2 separate regions of the Homo sapiens genome follow, and region 1 is linked to region 2. The links come from fine-mapping of genetic effects on gene expression. A gene starts in region 2. The other region holds a variant in brackets. All regions are shown on one strand. Distances are from middle to middle.

Region 1 (11,979 bases), 80 kb before region 2:
AGCCGTCCTGGGGACAGATGGTGGAGCCGTCCTGGCCGCCTCTGCCTGGACACCCTCAGGCCAACCCCACAGAGTTCCTGAGCCCTCCCAGGCACGTTTTGGGGAGGGTGGCTGGGGGGGAAGCCAGTGTGGGCACCAGGCTCTGGTGCTGGGCAGGGACCATGATTCAGCCCCCCAGAGAGAAGCAGCCCAGCTCTTGGATGTGAATCCACATTCGGGGGACTGTGGGACTTTTATTCTTGAGCTTGAGTTTTTTCTAGGTGTCCTCCTAATACACAGCTGCCCCGCTCTGCCCCCACCCACATGGTTCCAAGGGGCAGGGTCCAGGGTCAGGGCCCAGCCTCCTGGCCAGGGCCATCTGTCTCAGCGTCCTAGACCTGCCTGTCTGCAGGTCCCAGGCATCGGTGCAGCACTGATGAACTTGGCGAATTCAGGGAACTTGGGCCTGGGTGTGGAGGTGGGGGCCAGAGGCCACCCACGGAGCTCCGGCCAAACATCCACGCTGGGGACCAAAGGCCCCCAGAAGCTACTGCACGAGGAGGCGACCTCAGGGAGGGCTGGCTGGGGCTTCTGGGGCCGGAGAGCGGGTCTGGGAGGTCCCTCGGTGTCAGCTCCAAGCCCCACCCGCCCTTCTCGGACCCCGTGCCCCTGCGTGGTATCCCTGAGTTGGGGTGCGTGGGGTGCTGTGTGCTGAGTGGGGTGTGTCCCCCAGGGCTCTCCCAGGCACCCTGTCCTCTCACTGCTGAGCCCTGGGGCTCACAGAGCTCGCTTGTCTTCTTCGTTCAGACAGAAGCCGCCCCTGGACATCCTGTTTTTCTTCTGTTGTATGAACAGGAAGCCAGCAATTGTGTGGGATGAGTGTCAGCATGGCCGTGTCTGAGCCCGGCACGGCAGACACTTGTCCCGCCACACCTGCCATGGGTCCCTCCAGCTCTGGCCCGAGAGACTCAGGGCTCCCCAGGGCTCCCCAGTTGCGTGGGCTGTGAGCACCATGTGTGCACGGCTGGCCCTGGAATGGCTGGGGCGGGCACCGTGGAGTGTCCATCGTGCACCGGCCATGGCCTGGAAGGAGACCCAGGCGGTCACTGCCCTGGGGCTCAGCGTTGAGGCCACAGTGAAGCGACAGGGGCAGAAGGGCAGGGGCCGGGGGCCAGGCAGGGAGCGGGGGCCGAGGGCCAGGCAGGGAACAGAGGCGCTGAGGGAGGCAGACAAGGAGTAGGGGCCGGGGGCCAGGCAGGAAGCAAGGGCCGGGGGCCAAGCACGGAGCAGGGGTGCTGAGGGAGGCAGGCAGGGAGCAGGGGTGCTGAGGGGGCCAGGCAGGGAGCGGGGGTGCTGAGGGAGGCAGGCAGGGAGCAGGGGTGCTGAGGGAGGCAGGCAGGGAGCAGGGGTGCTGAGGGAGGCAGGCAGGGAGCAGGGGTGCTGAGGGGGCCAGGCAGGGAGCAGGGGTGCTGAGGGGGCCAGGCAGGGAGCAGGGGTGCTGAGGGAGGCAGGCAGGGAGCAGGTGTGCTGAGGGGGCCAGGCAGGGAGCAGGGGTGCTGAGGGAGGCAGGCAGGGAGCAGGGGTGCTGAGGGGGCTTCCGGGCAGGCTGCTGGGTGCTCGAGAAGCAGCCTCAGGCCCAAGGGGCAGGGTCCAGGTACACGGAGGTTGGAGGCTGGGAGGATGTGGTGGGCCCTGGCTTTGACTCTCAAGGCTGAGGGGCCACGGTGGAGTCCATAAAGTGGCCTGGCCTGCCCCATATTTCTGTAGGATGCTAGGGCTGTGCCGTGTTGCGCGGCTGGGTGTTGTCTGAGGGCACAGCGTCAAGGCAGGGAGTCCCCTGGGAATCTGGAGTGGCCCAGGTCGGTGGGAGGGGGCAGACCCTGCCCACCTGGAGGGCAGAACCAGCAGGACCTGAGCAGGGCAAAGACCAGCAACACTGACTGGGGAGTAGGAGGGCCGGCATCACCAACTTCCCACCTGGAAAGGTGGATCTCGATTTGGAGAACTTAAAAAGAATAATAAGGACACCCTGCTTATTGATGGATGGATTGATTGACAGGTTCTCACTCTGTCCCCCAGGCTGGAGGGCAGTGGCACAATCAGGGCTCACTGCAGCCTCAACCTCCCAGGCTCCAGCCATGCTCCCACCCCAGCCTCCCAAGTGGCTGGGACCTCAGGAGCGCCACCATGCCCAGCTAATTTTATTTATTTTGGTAGAGATGGGGTCTTGCTGTCTTGCCCAGGCTGGTCTCAAACTCCAGGGCTCAAGCGACCCACCCACCTCAGCCTCCCAAAGTGCTGGGATTACAAGTGTAAGCCACCTTGCCCAGCTTCACCCTGCTTTTAAAAATATGTGAAATATACATAACATGAAATTTACCATTTTAACCACTTTCCTGTGTACACTCAGTGGCATTAAGGGCACTCATGTGGCTGCACAGCTGCCACCACCGTCCACCTGCAGAACCTTCTCATCTCACGCATCTGAAACTCTGCTTTAAAAGAAAATCTGGGCTGGGCGCGGTGGCTCACGCCTGTCATCCCAGCACTTTGGGAGGCCGAGGTGGACGGACCAATTGAGCTCAGGAGTTCAAGACCAGCCTGGCCAACATGGTGAAAACCCGTCTCTACTAAAAATACAAAAATTAGCCAGGCGTAGCGGTGAGCGCCTGTACTCCCAGCTACTCCGGAGGCTGAGGCACGAGAATCACGAACCTGAGAGGTGGAGGTTGCAGTGAGCCGAGATCACAGCACTGCACTCCAGCCTGGGTGACAGTGAGACTCCGTCTCTAAATAAAATATTAACTTAAATAACAAAATAAAAGTCTCTTTTGTTTATTGTGAAGTGCAACCCATGTGTAGGAAGGAACGCAGAGCACATGATGCGGCTCGGCACATGATCGTGAACACACCACAGCACGCCCCGCCCAGCCCACCCTGGCCCCATCGCCAGCCATGCCCAGCATGCAGCACCCAGAATGCGGGGCCAGTCACACTGCCTGCCATGGCCACGTGGTGGGGTACGTCCTCCCCACCTGGGCATCGTCCCGGGGCTGATGCACTTGCTCCGTCCTCCTACAGTGGACATTTGAGTGTTCTCAGCCTCTGTATGCAGCACACTGTGCACGATGGTGGGACGGTTCTGAGCGCAGACGGGAACACTGGCCTGTGCCACCCAGGCCCAGGTGGCTGCAGAGACGCCATGGTGGAGCCTGGGCGCCCCACGGTGTTTTATGGTTTTTTGGTTTTTGTCTGAGACGGAGTCTCGCTCTGTTGCCCAGGCTGGAGTGCAGTGGCCCGATCTCGGCTCACTGCGACCTCCGCCTCCCGGGTTCATGCTGTTCTCCTGCCTCAGCCTCCCGAGTAGCTGGGACTACAGGCACCCGCCACCATGCCCAGCTAGCTTTTGTAGTTTTAGTAGAGATAGTGTCTCACCACGTTGGCCAGGCTGGTCTCGAACTCCTGACCTCAAATGATCCACCTGCCTCGGCCTCCCAAAGTGCTGAGATGACAGCCGGCTGGGTTTTGTTTTGCATGAGCTGCTTTTGTTACATTTCTCCCAGGGAATCTGACATTGCTGATGCTGTTGTAAGTGATTTTTGAAATGGCCATTTCTGTTTATTGCTGATTTTCTCATTTTGGCTTGTGCTGAGCATTGATGCCGAACCCATTGGTTAATTCTAACGGCGTAGTTTTGATCCTTCGTGGCTTTCTGTGTAATCAATCACATTGTCGGCCGGTCCTGATGTTTCTGTTTTCCTTCTGCATTGGATGCCACCTGCTTGGGACGGCTCCAGGCCGGGCTGTGGCATCCTTACGTGCTGCCCTGAGCACCACGTCTCACGCTCGCCCATGGCTTTTACCCAGTTCAGGGCGCTCCCTGCCCGTCCCAGGTGAGTTATTTCTTAAATTGTGAGCTGAACTGAATTTTAGAACACTTGCTCTGTGTCTACCGAAAGGGCCACGTGGTTCTCTCCTCCGTTCCGGTCCTGGGCTGAATCATAACCTTGGACTCTCCTGTTAAGTCAGCCTGGCTCTCTGGGGTGACCCCCGTCACACACGCTTCTCTGGCGTGTGTGGCAGAATCCAGCTGCTGAGGTCTGATCTGATCTCATGTGAGTCCTCAGCCTCCCTCGCAGCAACACGGGGCCTTCCCTGTTCCCGTCCTGCCCTGCAGGGGGGCCCAGCAGCTTCCACAGCCCCCCAGGTCCAGGGGGAGTTCACTGCGGAATCCACCCAGGCTCCTGTCCTCAGGCCTCCCCTGTGGAGTCCCTGCTGGCACCTGCCCCTCCCTGGCCTCCGACCCTGACCCTACCACATGACCAGGCCTGAGTGGGTCTCCACTCCCCTGCACCACCGGCCTCCAAGCCAAGCCACGCAGCCCCTGGGTTCTGTCTGGAAACCTCCCTCGGGTCTCGCTCTGGTGGCCCTGTCCGTGTGGGGCAGCGTCTTTGGTTGGCACTTTTGCTGCAGTGAGGTCGGGGGCCTCCCAGGCGGGGCTGGAGGGAGGGGGCGGCGCGGGAGGGCCGGGGACCGAAACCTAAAGAGGGCAGGGGCTTGGGGTCCTCGTGGTGCCAGGACTGCGGTGCAGGGTTTGGGTGAGAAGATGCTGATGAGGTTGCCGAGGGCGCCAGGCGGAGCAGGTAGAGGCTCAGGCCCACGAGGGCTGCTCTGCACCTGCAGCTGAAAGATGAGGCCCAGCTCCCAGGGCTGAGCGTGGTTGAAGTGCTGCTGGGCGGACTCAGCTGGATGGGCGGCCACGGGCCACAGGGAAGGAACAGGGTGGGTGCTGCCGCAGCTGGCAGGTGTGTTGTGTGTGTGCCAGACAGAGGTGGGGGAGGGTTCCCGGCCCCCCGGGTCCAGAGGAGCCCCAGGCATTGCGGGTCAGTGGGAGGGACTTCCCGGCGGGCTGTGCGATAGCCCCTGCACCTGCCTCTCCCTCCCACGGCTGTTATCTTATCTCCACAGGCC[G/A]GGACCCCCTCCTGCTCCTGCAGGCCCTGCAGACCCTGTGGTCCACGCGGGAGCGGAAGCAGGTGAGTGGACGTGGCAGCCACCACGTGCCAAGTCACAGCCAGCAGAACTGACTGTTGGGCAGAGACTGGCCTAACAGGAGGCCTCCCTGGTCAGGAAGCTGCACAGCCCCCCACGGCCACAGGGTCCTGCACAGCTGCTGCCCCAGACCGCCTCCAGGGTGGCCTGTGTGGGGCAGGGGGCGGTCCTCCTCAAGTCCCCAGGGTGGTAAAGGCACTGCCTGGCCCCAGCAGCCCCTCTGAGGTCACCTCTGGGAGGCGCAGGGGCCACTCACCTGCAGGGACACAGCTGTCGCCAGCACTGCCAGGCCTGAGGCCCCGTCCTGCCACCGCCAGAGCACCCAGGCCCGGGTGGCCACTGGGGCAGGTGTCCAGGACAGGGAGGCCTTAGGAAGGGGTGGGACTTGAGCAGGGCAGGAGGCTGGGCGGGAGAGGCCAGGGGAGAGGCTACAGAGGGAGGGCCGGCCCCCTGTGGGGGCAGACGCGGATTCCGGCTCCTTAGTGGCAATGGCCTGTGCACAGGAAGCTGCCAAGTCCTGAGTGCCGCGTCCTCTGGCCCGAGGTCGCTCCTGCAGGTCCGGGGGACGCCCTCCAACCCCAGCCCAGCTCCTCTGAGTGCCACATCCACTGGCCTGAGGTCACCCCTGCAGGCCCGGGGGATGCCCTCTGACCCCAGCCCTGGCGCTGCCTGCTCCTGTGTCTGCCTCTCTCCTGCACCCACCTCTGCCAGCTTTCGTTTGTCCATCAGCTCGGTGGCTTCTTGGGCCTCCAGCTTGTGAATCTCTGTCCTTGCTTTTGAGATTTCCCTCTGCCGTTCCATTTCCAGGCTCTCTTGTCGGACCTTCGTCTGTGACGCTCAGTCTTCCTCGCTCTTTGGCACCTGCGTGTGTGGTGTGAGCCTCCCCGGGTCCCGCCCTCTGCCCCCCGCCCCCCACGTGTCTGAGTTGTGGGATTCCACTGTCCTTTCCTCCCTATGTCCTGACATTCGTCCTGGCGTCTCCTTGGAGCAGCGCTTGTTTATACACAGACAGGGCTGAGATCTGCTCCGGGCTCCGCTGACAGCCATGAGGCCGTCAGGCATTTCATCTTCATGGGGTGGGCCTGTGTCTGTGCCCTCACCTCCTCCGCGCGCCCTCACCTCCTCCGCATGCTCCCACCTCCTCCCCGCGCCCTCACCTCCTCCCCGCGCCCTCACCTCCACCGCCGCCCTGACCTCCACCGCCGCCCTGACCTCCACCGCGCGCCCTCACCTCCTCCGCGCGCCCTCACCTCCTCCCCGCGCCCTCACCTCCTCCCCGCGTCCTCACCTCCTCCCCGCGTCCTCACCTCCTCTGCGTGCTCCCACCTCCTCCCTGCGCCCTCACCTCCTCCTCGTGCTCTCACCTCCTCCTCGCGCCTCCATCACATTCCCGGATTCCAGCAAGCTGGCGAATGCCACATGCCCAGTGGCCCTGGGTGGGCCAGGAGCCTTGAAGATGGGGTCCTTGGGGGTCCTGGGTGCTGAGGAGAAGCCCAACCCTAGAGCCGGCTGCACATGGAGGTCTTGGGGACCCCCATATGGTGGCACAGACGCCGGGTGCCCCCAGAGGAGGGAGATGAAGACCAGGATTTTGGAGAACTCCTTGGGGCGGTCTGCAGTATAAAGGGGGCAATGGGACTGTTGGCCGTCTGGGAGGGCTTAGGTGTTCCTCTAACGTGAGAGAGGAGCCAGCACACCGGGCGGGTGAGAGCAGCCTGGGAGACGGGCAGGAGGAGGAGGCAGGGCTGGGGCGGGGTGAGGGCCTGGAGTAGGCGCACTCCCAGAGTGGGGCTCCCCTGGTTCATTGGGCCCTTCCCAGCCCCACTGCCCAGCAGCCTGTGGTGGGGTGTTCCTGTCTTTTTTTTTTTTTTTTTTTTTTTTGAGAAGGAGTCTTGTTCTGTCACCCAGGCTGGAGTGCAGTGGTGCAATCTCGGCTCACTGCAAGCTCCGCCTCCCGGGTTCAAGGGATTCTCCTGCCTCAGCCTCCGGAGTAGCTGGGATTACAGGCGCGCGCCACCACGCCCGACTAATTTTTTTTTTGTATTTTTAGTAGAGACGGAGTTTCACCATGTTGGCCAGGCTGTTCTCGAACTCCTGACCTCAGGTAATCCGCCCGCCTCGGCCTCCCAAAGTGCTGGGATTACAGGTGTGAGCCACCGCACCCAGGCTTTTCGTGTGTGTGTGTGTGTGTGTGTGTGAGACAGAGTCTTGCTCTGTCACCCAGGCTGGAGTGCAGTGGCATGATCTCGACTCACTGTAACCTCCGCCTCCCAGATTCAAGTGATTCTCTTGCCTCAGCCTCATGAGTAACTGGGATTAATAGGTGTGCAACACCACGCCTGGCTATTTTTGTATTTTTAGTAGAGACAGGGTTTCACCATGTTGGCCAGGCTGGTCTTGAACTCCTGACCTCAAGCAATCCACCTGCCTCGGCTTCCCAAGATGGTCCTGTTGTAACAGGGTGGTCCTATCCTAACAGCCCCTCGGGGGGGCCTTCTGGTGCTGCTGAGCCCATGGGACCCCCCCAGCCCCACTACTGAAGCCGTGAGTGGAGCCAACAGCTCAGTGCAGGGGATGCCAGCCAGCAGGGAGGAAGGGGGATACCGGCGGGGGGATTGGGGGGGATGCCCAGAGGGGGGTTGGGGAGGAGGGGGGATACGGGTGGGGAGGATTGGGGGGATGCCCAGAGGGGCATTGGGGTGGGGGGGAACCAGTGGAGGGATTGGGGGGGATGCCCAGAGGGGGGATACTGGTGGGCGTTATCGGGGGGGACGCCCAGAGGGGGGTTGGGGTGGGGGAGATACCGGTGGGGGGATTGGGGGGGATGCCCGGAGGGGGGTTGGGGTGCGGGGGATACTGGCGGAGGGATTGGGGGGGACGCCTGGAGGGGGGTTGGGGAGGAGGGGGGATACCGGCGGGAGGATTGAGGGGGATGCCCGGACGGGGGTTGGGGTGGGGGGGGATACTGGCAGGGGGATTGGGGGGGACGCCCAGAGGGGCATTGGGGTGGGGGAGCTCACATTGTTTTCTCCGTGCACAGCAGGAGGCTCTTTGTAGCTGAGGGGACCAGGAATGAGGAGTGAAGACCAGTGAAGGGCTCGAAGGGAGGAGGGACCGGCAGGGTGGGTGGGACGGCTTCCTTCACAGGGACCCCGGGAGGGAGGCAGGCAGCGCAAGGGGAGCCCAGTCTCAGAGCCATGGGTCCCAAGGGTCTTGGCACGTTCATTGAGGCCACCAAGATAAGGACAGGAGCTGGAAGGAGATGCCTGGGCCAGGACTGAAGTCTCCCGGAACAACGGGCTGGGACCCTGAGGCTGGCAGGGGTGCAGTGGGCACTGGGTCCATGTGTGGCTTGCGCTGGCCGACGTGGGCACACAAGGGGCACAGCTGCCACTGGGGGCCTGGAGGGGAGGACCCAGCTGGGGTCTGGAGGGCCAGGATTTTGCAGAAGGTTTACGGGACTGAAGCAGGAGTGAGGGAAGGCGGGCTGTGGTTAGAACGGGTGCTGCAGAACTCCGGGGGTGACAGAAACCAGCCTGGGCGAGAGCGCACCCCAAATCAGAGCCACGGAGCGTCGGCTTCATCGAATGCTTTATTGGGGTAAGATGCACGACATATAAAACCAGCCGTTTCACAATGAGTGACTCAATGGCCTGGAGCGCCCAGTCGTGCTTCGTGAATCTTTCTACATCTTCACAACCTGTGCACCTCTTCTGGTTTCAGAATGGTTCATCGCTTCAGAAGCAAACCCCGTACCCCTCACACAGACGCCCCATTCCCCTCGGCCCCAGGCAACGGTCACCGTCACCCGCAAACCCCGTACCCCTCACACAGACGCCCCATTCCCCTCAGCCCCAGGCAACGGTCACCGTCACCCACAAACCCCGTACCCCTCACACAGACGCCCCCATTCCCCTCGGCCCCAGGCAACGGTCACCGTCACCCGCAAACCCTGTACCCCTCACACAGACGCCCCCATTCCCCTCGGCCCCAGGCAACGGTCACCGTCACCCACAAACCCCGTACCCCTCACACAGACGCCCCATTCCCCTCGGCCCCAGGCAACGGTCACCGTCACCCACAAACCCCGTACCCCTCACACAGACGCCCCCATTCCCCTCGGCCCCAGGCAACGGTCACCGTCACCCACAAACCCTGTACCCCTCACACAGATGCCCCATTCCCCTCGGCCACAGGCAATGGTCACCGTCACCCACAAACCCCGTACCCCTCACACAGACGCCCCATTCCCCTCGGCCCCAGGCAACGGTCACCGTCACCCACGAACCTTGTACCCCTCACACAGATGCCCCATTCCCCTCGGCCCCAGGCAATGGTCACCGTCACCCACAAACCCCGTACCCCTCACACAGATGCCCCATTCCCCTCGGCCCCAGGCAACGGTCACCGTCACCCACAAACCCTGTACCCCTCACACAGACGCCCCATTCCCCTTGTCACACAGGCCCTAGCCACTGCTCACCCGCTTTCTGCCTCTGGATTTGCCACTTCTGGACAGTTCACACACATGCGGTCACATAACATGGGGTCTTTTGTGACTTGCTTCTTCATTTAGCACGATATCAAGGCTTGTCTATGTGGATGTCTGTGTCAGCTTCCTCCTTTTCCGTGGCTGAGTAATACGTGGCCAGGCCACATGCTGTTTCTTCATAGACAGCTGAGGGTCATCTGCGCCATCTCCACCTCTGGCCGTTGTAAATAAGTACTTCTCTGAAAATTCATCTACAAACATCTGCGTGAGCCCCTGTTTTTAAATCTTTGGGGAGGACGGGTGTGGTGGCTCACGGCTGTAATCCCAGCACTTTAGGAGGCTGAGGTGATAGGATCACCTGAGGTCAGGACTTCAAGACCAGCCTGGCCAACAATGGCGAAACCCCATCTAAACCAAAAAATACAACAATTAGCCGAGCGTGGTGGCATGCACCTGTAGTCCCTGCTATTTGCGAGGCTGAGGCAGGAGAATCACTTAAACCCCAGAGGCGGAGGTTGCAGTGAGCCAAGATCATGCCACTGCACTCCAGCCTGGACGACAGAGTGAGACTCCATCTCAAATAATAAATAAATAAAAATAAATAAACAAATAAATCTTTGGGAAACTGCCTGGAATAGAATTGCTGGGTCATGTGGTAATCATGTTTATCTTTTTGAGGAACTGTCAAACTACTACTTTTATTAAAAATTTCAGCCAAGTGCAGTGGCTCATGCCTGTAATCCCAGCACTTTGGGAGGCCAAGGTAGGCGAATCACGAGGTCAGGAGTTTGAGACCAGTCTGGCCAACATAGCGAAACCCTATCTCTACTAAAAATATAAAAACTTGGCCAGGCGTGGTGGCCTGCACCTGTAATCCCAGCTACCTGGGAGGCTGAGGCAGGAGAATCACTTAAACCGAGGAGGCAGAGATTGCAGTGAGCCAAGATCGCACCACTGCACTCCAGCCTGGGCGACAGAGCAAGACTCTGTCCCAGGAAAAAAAAAAAAAAAAAAAATTCAACGACTATTTTTTGTTTTCAAAGTTCTCTTAGGTTTCCTCCCTCCCTCCCTTCCTTTCTTTTTTGACAGAGCCTGGTTCTACGTCACCCAGGCTGGAGTGCAGTGGCGCAATCTCAGCTCACTGCAACCTCCGCCTCCCAGGTTCAAGCGATTCTCCTGCCTCAGCCTCCTGAGTAGCTGAGATTAAAGGTGCGCATCAGCACGTCTGGTCTTAAACTTCTGACCTCAAGCGATCCTCCCACCTTGGCCTCCCAAAGTGCTGGGATTACAGGCATGAGCCACCACACCCAGCCTTAGGTCCTTTTTGAAATCTGCCTTTCCCTTTTTTTTTTTTTTTTTAGAGACAGAGTCTTGTTCTGTCACCCAGGCTGGAGTGCAATGGCACAATCTCAGCTCACTACAACCTCCGCCTCCCGGGTTCAAAGGATTCTCCTGCCTCAGCCTCCCAAGTAGCTGGGACTACAGGCTCCACTATGCTGGCTAATTTTTTGTATTTTTGGTAGAGACGGAGTTCCGCTATGTTGCACAGACTTGTCTTGAACTCCTGAGCTCAAGCCATCGGCCTGCCTCGTCTTCTCAAAGTGCTGGGATTCCGGGCGTGGCCACTGCGCCTGGCTGATGCGTTGTTCCTGCATTTGCCCACCGACTCTCTGTGTTTGGCTGTAACCACGTTGCACGCTCAGTCAGTCGCTTGCTGCTCACAGAGTCCAGGTCAGAGGAATGAGGTCTGGTAGAAAGAAAGTGACTTTTTATTCCGTAGCTGGCTTGAGGGAAGAAGCGCAGGCCTCATGCCTGAAGGGTATGGGTATGGCTTAGCTTTTGGAGCAGAAAGAGGCTTTTTTTTTTTTTTTTTTTGAGATGGAGATTCTCTCTTGTCGCCCAGCCTGGAGAGCAGTGGCGCAATCTCGGCTCACCGCGACCTCCGCCTCCCAAGTTTAAGCAATTCTCCTGCCTCAGCCTCCCGAGCAGCTGGGATTACAGGCATGTGCCACCATGCCTAGCTAATTTTGTATTTTTAGTAGAGACGGGGTTTCTCCATGTTGGTCAGGCTGGTCTCCAACTCCCGACCTCAGTTGATCCGCCCACCTTGGCCTCCCAAAGTGCTAGGATTACAGGCGTGAACCACCATCCCCGGCCAAAAGAGGCATTTTTAAAAGGTCGGGAGGAAGCGAGCAGGTGGGGGGGTCTCTGTGCCTTATCTACCTGGAAGTTGAGTTGGCATCTCCATGGGCAGAAAGAGGCTGTGAAGGTGGCCGGAAACTCCAGCAGGCACACTTTGGGCCGTAAATCTACTTGTCTCTCGAGGCGGCCTCCTGCAGGCGAGTTCTGCTCTGAGCCTCTAAGCACATGGATAGATGAGCTTGCCCTGTAGGGAGTGTCTGGTGAACAGGAGGTGGAAGGCTATCATTGCATTTCTTTTTTTTTTTTTTTTTTTTTTT
Region 2 (11,979 bases):
GCAGAGCACACCCCGGAGAGCGAGGCTGGAGGTGGCCTCCAACCTCAGGTCCCCCGCTCGCAAAGACACACTCAGACCAGAGCCCCAGGACATGACGGCACACACCCCACCCGAGGGTAGTGGGCAACACCCAGATGGGCTGACGAGTGTGACAGGGACTGCAGGGTAAGAGCTGGGGCCAGCCAGGGAGGGGCCAGATGAGGGTCATGGCCTCCTGGGCTTCAAGGAGGAGCTGGGGCTGGGGTGGGGGCGTGGTGCATTCATCCCCGGCCGCAGCTGATCTGGAGCCATCTGTAGCGAAATGCTTGCTGAGCAAATTACGAGGGTCAACAGGAGCAGGGCAGACGCTTCTCCCACCTGCTGGCCAGTGTTCCCTCGGCTACCGTGCACTCAGCCCCACAGTGACCCCTGAGTGGATACCGGCCCTGCCTGCCCTGGGCTCTCAATGGGGGCTCGGGGCCTCACAGGGCCAGCACGAGCCACTTCCCAGGGTCTCCAACAGACCCTGAGCCTGGCAGTCCCTGGGCCCTGCCCACCCGCCCACCCTTGTGCTGGCTGATTTCGAAATTCACTCACTGGCAGTGGGCTTATCTGCTCATCACCACAAATGGGCTGCCCCCGCCCCCGCCCGCCGGTTCTCAGGCCCCCAAGAGCCCTAATCAGCAGATCTCGCGCCTAGAACATGTTTCCCAGGGACCTTTGAGCCCCAAGACCTTTCCGAGGTGTGAGTTCCCAAGGGAGGGGACCAGGCCGGTACCACAGCTCCTTGGCCCCCTGCCCTCTGCCCGTCTGCGAAGGCTGGGGGGTGTGTGAAGAGGCTGCACCCCATGAGGTGACTGTGCTCAGCCGCATGGCTGCGTCATGGACCCCGCTGGCTGCCAAGCCCCATCCCTAGGACAGTCCCGGACCAGCTCTCTTCCTTGACTGACAGGTGACGAGGCCACCCAGAGCCAGGCGGTGCAGGAGCCAGGTGAGCCCCGGGACCGCCCACCAAGGACACAGCTGCTTCTCTGCGGCCCTGGTGCCAGGCTTCCCCCAGAATGGGGGACTTGGGTCCCGGCCGGGCAGAGGGGGCTCTGTGGGGCTCCTGTAGGCCCTAGGGCCTGCAAGGTGAGGGGTGGGGTCCCTGGATAGGAGAAGTGGGCACAGAAGAGGAAGTGGAGGACGCAGAGTCAGCGGATAGGGAGCAGAAAGAGGAGCTGCTGAGGAGTGAGCGTGGGCTCAGCGTGGGCCGCCAACTGCACCACTCTGGGAGCAGCCTGGGGGCCGTGCCCGAAGGCTGAGGGCTCAGGGAGTCCACTTCTATCTGTCCAGGCCCAGCCCCAGACGCAGCCCCTGAGGGCTGCACCTATGACCGCCCCTGCCGCTGGCTGCAGATGGCTGACCTGCGGGCGGAGACACCGGACATGCTGGCCGACGGCACCCGGCTGCAGCTGGCAGGGGTCCCGGTGGGTGTGCTGAGGACACCTGGGCTGCGGTGCTTCTACTGCTGCACGGGCTGTGGAAAGGTCTTCTGGGACGGCTCCCACCTGGGTCGTGTTGCCACCCACTTCCGAGACATGCTGGAGAGCGCCCCCAGCCCCTGCGAGCCGAGCCCAGCCCCCAGCCCGGCCAGCAGTCCCTTCTGAGGACAGCCAGACAATAAACATGGAAAGTGCCCGACTGCTGGGCCCATGGCCGTGGACTGGCTCACATGTTTCATGCTCGCCCCACAAACCCCTCGTGGGCCCCTTTGTGCCAGCAAGCGCTGGGAACACCAAGGCGGGGTCCCAGCCCGAGCCGCTGTCGGGGGAAGACAGGGTTTCCAGATGGTCAGGATGCTGGGACCCCGAGCCTGGTGGGACCCACGAGGTCTCTCCATCACCCCCGTCAGGGCTGCGTGATTCCCACGGGAGAGCAGCAGCCACAGCCCCCACTAGAGGCACCTGGGCAGCCGGCCATGGCCAGGGCTCTGCACACGTGGACGCCAACGTCTCCGTCCTCACAGCTGCCTGGACGTAGCTGCTGCTGCCCCTGTCTGGGAGGAGGCTGAGGCCCAGGCGGCCACTGCTGCCCACCCTGAGGGTCCGAGGGTGCTCTGTCAGGTGGAGCAGGGAGGGCAGGGGGTCCCAGAGGTGGGAGAGGAGGAGAAGCCCGGGGAGGGACCATCCCAGGAATGTACCCCCTCCCCTCACCCACATCCTTTTCCTCTGCTTCCTGCCTGGAGCGGAAATCAGCTCAGATTTGGCCGAGGAGGTGGGCGGAAGCCTCGGGCAGCAGGGGCCTGGGGGCGGGCTGGGGAGAAGCAGCCGCCTCTGCCCAGAGTAAGGAGCAGGCTTCGGGTGCGAAGGCCTTGGGCATCCCTGGACTGGCCCAGTCGGGGCCTCCCTGTGGGTCCCGACCACACCAGGGCTGGCCACTGCCCCTGGGTACCCCTAAGGACTGCAGCCCAACCCCTTCAGCCCCCAGCAACCCCAGCAGGGGTGTCATTTCACAGATGGGGAGGGGGAGGCTGAGACGGGGAGGGCCTGGCCTGTGTCAGAGCCAACTCGAGTTTTGACCTGCCCCCTTGACCTGCTGGGCAGCCGCAGGGCGTGAGCCTGAGAGTCAGGTGGGGGCACCAGGGTGAGCAGAGCAGCACCCCAGGAGAGGGTCAGGGCCTTCTGGGACCGGGATCTGCTTCCGGGAGGGGAACCCCAGCTCCACATTCCTGTCCTGGGGAGGCAGCCCCGGACCGAACTCCTGCCTGGCAGGGTTTAAGAGGGAGTGGCTGAGGGCACCCACCCTCCACCCGGCCTGGCTGCATCCTGCTCCCAACACAGGCCCAAGTGCTGCTGCTGGCTCTCGGCAGAGGGAGGCAGAGTGGTGCAGAGGCCGCAAGGAGACAGAACCACACATCCTCCGTCCCTCCCGGCTGGCCCCGCCTCCACCCGCCCTCACTTTCCGCCATGGCCGTGCTGTGCCATATGTGTTTCCCGCCTCCACACGTCCCTCACTACCCAGCATAGGCTCGGCCTGGCTCTGCGGCGTCCATCCCAGGCCCAGGCTTTGGTGGGGGTGAGGCTCTCTGCCCAGTTCCCATCCTGGTCCAGGTGCTGGAAGCACGCCTCGGTCACTGGGGTCAGCACCCATCAGGCTGCTTCCTGGGCTAGGGGACAGACACCAGGCTGACCGGGTGGCCGAGGCTGCCAGTGCCAGGCCATGCCTTGAGCAGCCATCCCGGCGGGCAGGAGCCACCGGTTGCAGGGATTGTCTGCGGCAGTTCCTGCCCGGGCGTCCTTCCTCCGCCGCGGCCTGTGCTGGCCCGGGCTGAGTGTTTGTTATTTGATCTCGATCCTCTCAGCCCTTCTACCAGGTGTCTGGGCTGCTGGGAAGAAACACTCTCCTCTTTCCCACGCTCCCGACACATTTTAATGAATTAGCTGGAAGCCCCGCCCCCACTGCCCGCCACCCTCCCTCCCTGCTTAGCGCCTTTAAGGTGGCCGCAGGCCTCGGCCCAGCTCTGGCCAGCTGCCCCTTCTGCGCTGTCCTCCCTGGGCCCTCCCAGGCGGGCCGGCCACCCCGCACAGACCTCCCTCCCCATGTTGCCCACTGCTCTGAGCCTCCAGGGAAGGAAGGAAAGGGGGTGCATGCAAAGAGAAGGGGCCCCACCATTGCCTTCTGGGGGCAGGTGGGTTACAGGCAGGGCACCCCCGGGGCCAGCATCCTCAGGACAGGCAGGGGAGGAAGGACAGGGCCCAGCTGCACAGTCGGAGCTGAGCCTGTTGCCAGGTCCCAGGGCAGGGCCTCCCAGACAGCAGAAGGCTCCAAGCAACACCGGCAAACACCAGGGGGTCCTCTCGAGCACAAGTACTGGGTGGCTGGAGGTGGACCCCCGTGTCCCAGCATTTGGAACAGATGTCCACCTTTTGGATGTCCCTCAGCAAACATTCGGGAAGTGCTGACTCAGAGCTGTTGCCCCCCCGGCCCCTCCCCCCTTCCCATCCTCAAATGGAGCAGCTTCAGGGCCGTGGGTGTGCCCAGGGGAGCTGGGAGCCACGGTGGAGGAGCAGGAGCCAGGGCCACTCAGCGAACTCCCTGTGGGCAGTGTGGTGTGGCCAGCCTCTGAGTCCCACAGATGAGCCTGGGTACCTGCCTTGGGCCACAGCCACACTGCCGTGGCAGGCCCCACCACCTCTGCCTGACCCCGCTCTGGACCCCGGGCAGGGGGTAGGTTCCCGCCCTGCAGGGCCGCCACACCAGCCTCACTGTGCCTGCCGGGGCGCCCGCACCGCCTGGCCCTCGCCAGGGGCCGCTGCCGATTTCACGCCCGTGGCGGGGCCCCGCGTTCCCACACCGAGCTCACACAGGGCCCCTTTGTTTGCCGCCGCCACGGATGCCGACGGCACTTTCTCCCAGGCCCTGCTCCTGGCCCACAGCATAGCCAAATGCCTTCTCCAGGCCCGGCTTGAGCCCACCTGGGCTTCGGCCTGTTTGCAAACCACCCACCCTCCAGGGGAGGCCCTGTGCCTGTTGAGCACCAAGGGCTCTGCCCACCCCCCAGTCATGCCCTCTGCCTCTTGCCAGTCTAGCCTGGCTGGGCCCTGGGCATATGCACAAAATCCATCAATGCCCAGGACAGAGCTCCTGCCCTCCTGACAGTGAGCTCAGAGCACCCTGCACACCCAGCCCTGGTCTGAGGTCCAGAGACACAGCCAGCACCAGGGACCAGCAGGCAGCCCAGCGGCTCCCCCTCCTTAAGAGGCCAAAGGTGCCCAGCAGAGCACGGCAGGCCAGGCCATGCCATCCCTGCCCCGGGCCTGGGCTCCACAGCGCCCATCTCTGTTCTGCTGGGGGCCTACTCCGGGACTCCACTGTGTCCTCACCTGCATATTGGGGAGCACCCCTCCACCCTCCGTGGCCCCCTTGAGAGCTCCTGGGAGAAGCAGTGAGGCCCAAAGGAGAGAGCTGAACAGAACCAGCGGGATCACGGCCCCAGGAAGACCAGAGCGAGCTCTGAGCTGTGCCTTTGAGGGACAGAGGTTCCCAGCCCACCAGGAGGACCCCAGGGCCTCAGGACCCTGCTCCGGTCAGCCAGGGTCTGTCCCGAAGGGAGCCTGCCCAGTTTTTCCTGCCAGTATGGGCACAGCATGGGGTGGGGACACACCCCTGTGGGGAGCCGGATGTGGGGACATGGAGCTGGTGGGCGGAAGCCTCCTCAGACAAGGCCTGGCATGGGGGTCTCCCCAGCCCGAGCTCAGAGCTGCCTGCGCGGAATTCCCGGCTTGGCTTCAGAAGGAATTCAAGCCCCAGCCTGCCTGGCCTCCTGCTCCGCGCCTGAGAATCACTCCTCCTTAATTTCCAACGACCACAGCGAGTTGTAAACTGTAAAACTCTAATGAGGAAATGCGCTGTGCTTCCCCTGCTAGTGCCTCCCGGTCAATTGTTAGAGTGGTCAATAAAAATGGGTTTTACAGTTTGGAAGCCAGGCGTTTCAGAATTCCCTTCTGGCCCTGGCGCCACACCTAGCCCTGCTCACCTGGGCAGGACCTATGTGTCCCGCATGCTGGTGCGTGGGCAGCAGAGGGAGGCAGGCCGCGGTCCCGACCCTCCCGCTGCGCCCCGGCCCGGGGCTTCCTCCCGAGAGGACAGCGGAACCCCCTTCACCGCCAGGCGATAGAAGCCGCGGTGGCCGGCCGGAGGCCCCTCGCATCAGTACGGTTGGGGCACACATAGGCTGAGCCGGCGGCCATGAGGCTGCCCGCGCGCGGGAAGGACCCGCGTGGCTGAAGGCCCCACGTCAGGGCCTGGAGTTGCCACCCGCGTGGACGGTGAGCCCGGAGGCGCGGGCTGGCCGGGGTCGCCGCGCGCCTCTCCGCTCAGAGGGGTCTCTCCTTCGCCACGGGCCTGAGATGCCCGCGAACCCCCTGCCCGGGAGAGGCCGCCCTCGGGGCCACCTGGCGGTCGCGCTCGGGTACCGGGCAAGGCCTGGGTCTGGCTGCTGAGGGAGCTTGGAATTCCCCGGGTGGCCGGAGGGAGAAGGGGCGGGACGACCGCAAAGAGACGCGGAGCGCCCGGGGGGCGCGCGGACGGCGGCGGCGACGGAGCTGGACCCCCCCGGCGGCCACCTGGCCTCCCCCGCCCAGGCGCTGCCGGCGACCAGCGCCCCCTGCCGCGAAGCGCGCCGCCGCCGGGACCCGCCCCCGGACCCCTGCGCACGGCACCGCCCACGCCCCGCCCCCATGTGGGCGCGGCCCAATCCCGGGGCCGCCGGCGCGCGCGTCACGGGCTGCCATTGTTATGCAAATATAAAGAAGGTAAAAGGCGCCCCGGCGCGGCGGGCGAGCTAGTGCTGCGGCGCGTGGGGAGGCGCCTTGGGACCGCGTGGGAGCCGCAGCCGAACCGAGTAGGGACCGGGACCGCGCGGCGCCGCCGTCCCCGGCCGGGCCCGGCCCCCGCGAGCCGAGCGCGCGCCCCCGTCGCCCACCCGGGCGCGGCTGGATGCGGCGGGGTCCCCGCGGCGGCGACCCCCGGCCCCGAGCGCCCGGAGCGCCCAGAGGCGGCGTGCGGGGCCCGGGGACGCCGCGCCCTCCATGCGCCGAGGCGCGCCCCGAGACAGCCGGGGGCCCGCGCCGCAGCCGCCGCCCGCGCTGAGCCCCGGCCCGGCCCGCGGCCCGCGCCCGGCGGCAGCATGAGCCAGGCCGAGCTGTCCACCTGCTCCGCGCCGCAGACGCAGCGCATCTTCCAGGAGGCTGTGCGCAAGGGCAACACGCAGGAGCTGCAGTCGCTGCTGCAGAACATGACCAACTGCGAGTTCAACGTGAACTCGTTCGGGCCCGAGGGCCAGACGGCGCTGCACCAGTCGGTCATCGACGGCAACCTGGAGCTCGTGAAGCTGCTGGTCAAGTTCGGCGCCGACATCCGCCTGGCCAACCGCGACGGCTGGAGCGCGCTGCACATCGCCGCGTTCGGTGGCCACCAGGACATCGTGCTCTATCTCATCACCAAGGCGAAGTACGCGGCCAGCGGCCGGTGATGCCCGCCGGGACCCCGGACCCCGGCCCTGCGCCCGCGTCGTCTCTGCTGTACCTTCCCGCCAACTACCTCGGTGCGCGCCCGGCTCGCAGGCCCCGCCAGAAGGCCCGTGGCCACGGCGAATACGGCGCGTGCGTCCCGGCCCCAGGGTCCGGCAGCCCCGCCGGCCGAGCGCCTCCCTGCGGCCTAGCCGGGCCCGGCCGGGCCGGAGCAGCTTCCCACGGCCCCCACCCGCTCGCCTGCCCGCCGCCTCGCGGGTGGGGGCGGGGCGCGGGCTCCAGCCCCTTTTGAAATTTGAGTCTCGCAACCAGCAAGTTCGGAATCCCGAGATACCGGATCCTCTGCGCAAAATGTTTTCTCCCGAAGGTGAAAGGCGGGCGGCGGGAGCCGAAGGCGGACTCGGAGCGCTCCGCCGCCGCCTTCAGGACCCGCCCGCAGGCCCGGGACGCGCCGATGCCGGCTGCAGCCGAGGAGCAGCCCCGAGGTCCGAGGTCCGCGCCGCTGGCGCGCGGCCGAGGAGACGCTCGGCTGTTCGCTGTTGCTGGTGTTCTAAACTATTTATCTTGTGTGTGTACATTTGTGGGTGGAGTTTGTGCGCCTGGTTTTTTTGTTTGGAAAACACTGCGTGGTCAATGTGGTTATGGGGGGGAGTGATGCATTTTTTTCTAGTCTTAAAACTAAAAACTTGAGTCTACCATTTCTTGGTTGCACTGAAAATACCGCCCAGCCTGATGGTGTTCCCGTGCTGTCCCTCCCCCTTCCCTTCTCCCCGCGTCTACCTCCCCACCCCGTTCTGTTCCCCCTCCCTCCTTCTCCCTCTCCCTCAAATCCGTGAGTTTTGGAAGCCCCAGGGCCTCTCTCCCCCGCCCCTCCTGGATGAGGCCACCATCCCCCAAACCGGCTTGTTTTGCAGTTTCCCCAGGATCCTGGAAGCTCGCTGGCGCTCGAGGGTGGCGGGGACACGGGGGGGTGGGTGAAGGTTCGTTACCTTTTCTAGTGCGTTCTATCATAGTTAACGGTTGCACACTTTTTTAAAAAAAGTAAATGGATTTGCCACAATTAAATGTCATAACATTTATGACAGAATATAAAATATTAACATATTTTAAGCCAAGTTTTAGGTGTATTTTTTGAATCTTGGTTATAAACCCAATTTTAAAGGGCGATGTATCCAGCGTTGTGAAGGCAACAGAGTGTACCCATATTTATATTTTTATAAAATACCTATAAGACTGTGAATCTCTTGTGCTAATGGCTGAGTTAATTGAAGGATCGTTTTGCCCCTTTTTAGCCTCCCAGAGCTTCGAGGACTCAATTCGAACCCGAAATCCTGCCGTGGGGGAGGGGTTGCGTCGAGACCTGGGCCCGGGGAGGTTCTCCTGCGTCACTTTCTGTCCTGAAAGGCGCCCTTCCTGGTTTCTGTGGCTCCAATTTTCTATGCAGCCCCACACCCCTTGTTGTTTTGATCCTGAGAAATAAAAGGGAGGCTGAATTATTCAAATTTAAATGAGGTTTCCCCTTCATGGAAGTGCTGCTGACCCTTCGTGCAGAAATGGGGAGCACTTGAGGACACAGGTGGGTGGAGGCCCTTTGTGCGTGGCTGGTCGTATTCGGGCAGCCCTCCGTCGCTTTTTATAAAACTTTGTGTGAGAAGAATATATTGATAATGTCAGTGAAACAAGCAGACATTGAAATGGAGGCACAGATTACTCCACAAGGAGTTCTTCTGTATATTTTTTCTAGATGCAAATACCTTTTTAATTATGTTAATTAATGTTAAGACTTTCTAGGCTTATATCGAAGCTGTGTGTGGGTCACGGGGTGATCACTGCTAACTGGATAAAGTTTGTGCAGCACATTCCTGAGTGTACGATATTGACCTGTAGCCCAGCGTGAAAAATTTATAAATAAATTTTTCATTGATCTTTTTATATTAAAAAAAAGTTTCTTGGTCCTTCTTGGCTTTGGCACAAGTTGCAGAACACCCTCTCTGGGGACGAGGGTCAGGCTGTGACACGGTTTGTGGGTGCTGGGTGCACAATGCTTGGCTTGTATTTGTCTGAAGACAGAGCCTGGTAAACTCGCTCCCAGCCCCACGCAACGGCCAAGCCCAACCCGGCTGCACACAGGACTCACGAGGACCCAGCACCTCCAGCGTGCCCAGAGCTGGTGTCACAGCCTCTGCTCTGTTCCCCAGCAAAGCAGCTGAGACCTCCGCTGGAGAGGAGAGTTCGGCCTGAAGCCCTGCCCACTCTGACCCGCTAGGGGGTCATGCTGGAGGCTGCCTGCTGCACAGAAAGTGTATCTTGTAAATTGGGGGGAAATCCCATAGCTGCTCACTCCTGGCAGGTAGAAAGTCCCCTGGAGGCACCCGGGAGCTTTGGAGGCCTGCACAGGCCTGGAGTCAAAACACCCCAAAGAGCACAGACCCTGAGTTAGACGAGCATCGGGGCCGGGCACTCCCATTCGCAAGAAAGGAGAGCAGAGCAGGATGGCTGTTGCTGGCACCTGACAGAAAGGAGCAGAGACTCTTGGTCCACTCCTGAGATGCCCTTGGGGCCCTGGGGGCCCTGTACCGGGCTGCAAGGGAGCACACCCGCCCCCAGCAAGAGCAGCCAGCAGAGAGAACTTGGAGAAGGGCAAAGACCGGGAGTTACAAGGTAACAACTTTTCAAACCCCTCTGCCGAATGTAAGGGGAATCTGCTTCCCTAAACCGTGTCCGCAGAAGGGCTGCCCTTCCCACAAACTTTCCCCACGCCTCCGCCTTCCTACTCTGCACTGCCGCCCTGTTTACCCTTGGTTTTCCAGGCGCGTTTTCCGTCGGTTACGCATTTCCTATCCTGCAGAATCGGCCTGGGAGATGGGCCAGCTCCCTGAAGCAGGCTTTGGGAAGTCTTGCCCTGGGCCAGCCCGGGAATGCCCAGCCGTTGGAAAGGAGAGTGGCCACAAGAACCTGGACACGATTGGGGTAACCAGAGAATGAGGTCAGGCAGCCCCAGTGATGGCCAGGGCTATGCTGGACCACTCCACCCTTCCCCACCCAGGGTCTGAAGAACAAAGGTAACATTTGTTACTGGCATTAGCCTGCAGGTGGGTGGGGTCCCAGCCAATTGCTTGCCCCTGCAATATCCGGGAAGTTCTCCCACTGCGGAGAGGCCTGGCCTGGCACCAGGGGCCTCCCAGGCACATGGCTGCCACCCCAGGGTACTCTTTGCAGCTCCCTTAAATTCTGTCTTCTGAAAGATACATTTGACTGAGAAAGGCCTTGTGCTGCTCTTCTCTCGCGCAGGAACAAAAGGAAGCCTGCCCGGGCAGCCCTGTGGGCAGCTGAGGAGAGGAGGGCTGAGAGGGTGGAGCCCTGGAGGGGGTCTGCTTCCTCCCCAGGTGTCGCTGTGTACACTGACCGGCCCGGATGACTGGGGACAGCCTCGCTGACCTTTCTTGCCAGGCACAGCCCTAGGGGGCAGGTAGACACACACTCTAAGACCAGGCACAGCCCTAGGGAGCAGGTAGACACACTCTAAAACCAGGCACAGCCCTAGGGGGCAGGTAGACACACTCTAAAACCAGGCACAGCCCTAGGGAGCAGGTAGACACACACTCTAAAACCAGGCACAGCCCTAGGGAGCAGGTAGACACACACTCTAAAACCAGGCACAGCCCTAGGGAGCAGGTAGAGACACACTCTAAAACCAGGCACAGCCCTAGGGGGCAGGTAGACACACACTCTAAAACCAGGCACAGCCCTAGGGGGCAGGTAGACACACACTCTAAAACCAGGCACAGCCCTAGGGGGCAGGTAGACACACACTCTAAAACCAGGCACAGCCCTAGGGGGCGGGTAGACACACACTCTAAAACCAGGCACAGCCCTAGGGGGCGGGTAGACACACTCTAAAACCAGGCACAGCCCTAGGGGCAGGTAGACACACTCTCTAAAACCACAATTTTCTTCCCACCTCTGGGGGTCAGATTTATGAATGAAATCTCAGCTGGGAGGGTCCAGGTGTTGAGAGCCCAGGAGGACGGTCCGGGGACGCTGAGCACAGCCTACAGGCTTGTCCTTGTTAGGAAGCCCGGGGTAGCACATTCCTAGAAGCAGCTCAGTGGAGGGGGAGGCTGGCCACCTGTGCGCCAAGAGTGGGCCTCCCTGGCCACAAGGGGAGGGGGGGGCAGCTCTGGGGTATGGGCAAAAAGGAGGAAGTACCTGGTCTCTGGGTATGGCCAGGTCGATGCTGCTATGTGTCTCTGATGCCTGTTTCCCTCCTGAGTTCAGGGGCCTGTGCACACGCTTCTTCCAGTGCTTCTGTGTTCAGCAGGTCACTTACTGCAGCAGGGTGTTGGTAGGTATTAGCAGCTATGGTGGGTACTGGCCTATGGCAGAGTTACTGGGGAGTCCCCAACCCCCCTCCCCAGGCAGGCCCCTTTGTGGCCAGGGTGAGAAAGAAGGTCTGGGTGGCCCAGCCTACACCGTCAGCCCCGGCCTCCCAGATCTGCAGGTGTGCCTTGGAGGCCAGGTGAGGTGTCCGGCCGAGAGGCACGGAGGACAGCCACGGTGGAGGGGCTGGCAGGTGGGGGCTGGGTCCCTGGGAACCCCTGAGAGAAAGGAGACAGTCCCGGCAAGGTCAGGGCCTGCCCCACATCCCCCGCCAGGACTGCTGGGCTCCCGTCCAACTGTCTGTCTCTGATCTGACCCCGGCTGGAGGCAGGAAGCACTGACGTTGGAACAGACGCCACGGAAAGACCAGGAAATGCAGGAAGATGGTCAGCTAGAAAGAGTGATGTCTGAAGCCAGCAGGCGTGGGAGCCAGGACACAGCAGGCCAGAGGAGGGTGGACAGGACTTAGAAGCCAGGGAGACGGGTGCAGGGAAGGAAGAGCGGGAAGGAGCTGCCCGCTGGGGTCTGTCCCCCAAAGGCCTCATAGCTCAGCACAGGTTGGGACAGAGGGGTCGTGGACACTAGAACACCCGGCGCACAGAGCCTC

Evidence for each region. PIP is the estimated chance that this variant, and not a neighbour inherited with it, causes the effect.
Region 1: its variant is fine-mapped to the expression of NRARP in whole blood (INTERVAL, PIP above 0.99).

What each region holds. Positions count from the first base shown.
Region 1 is chr9:137,376,346-137,388,324 of GRCh38, reverse strand. It overlaps EXD3 (exonuclease 3'-5' domain containing 3), which reads left to right. Exons shown (of 22, transcript NM_017820.5): 3 at 4,948-5,012. Among named protein-coding and RNA genes, the nearest start is that of EXD3, 41 kb to the left of the region's middle. The variant G/A (reference allele first, on the strand shown) is at 4,951.
Region 2 is chr9:137,296,599-137,308,577 of GRCh38, reverse strand. NRARP (NOTCH regulated ankyrin repeat protein) reads left to right here and starts at 6,307. Exons shown (of 1, transcript NM_001004354.3): 1 at 6,307-8,947. The coding sequence starts at 6,650. The coding sequence ends at 6,994. EXD3 (exonuclease 3'-5' domain containing 3) reads left to right here. Exons shown (of 22, transcript NM_017820.5): 21 at 932-970; 22 at 1,315-1,682. The coding sequence ends at 1,628. RefSeq lists enhancers at 974-1,093, 584-1,501, 6,090-7,008, 8,808-9,701, 11,342-11,979 and silencers at 5,748-6,387, 7,070-7,149, 7,220-7,279, 7,400-7,449.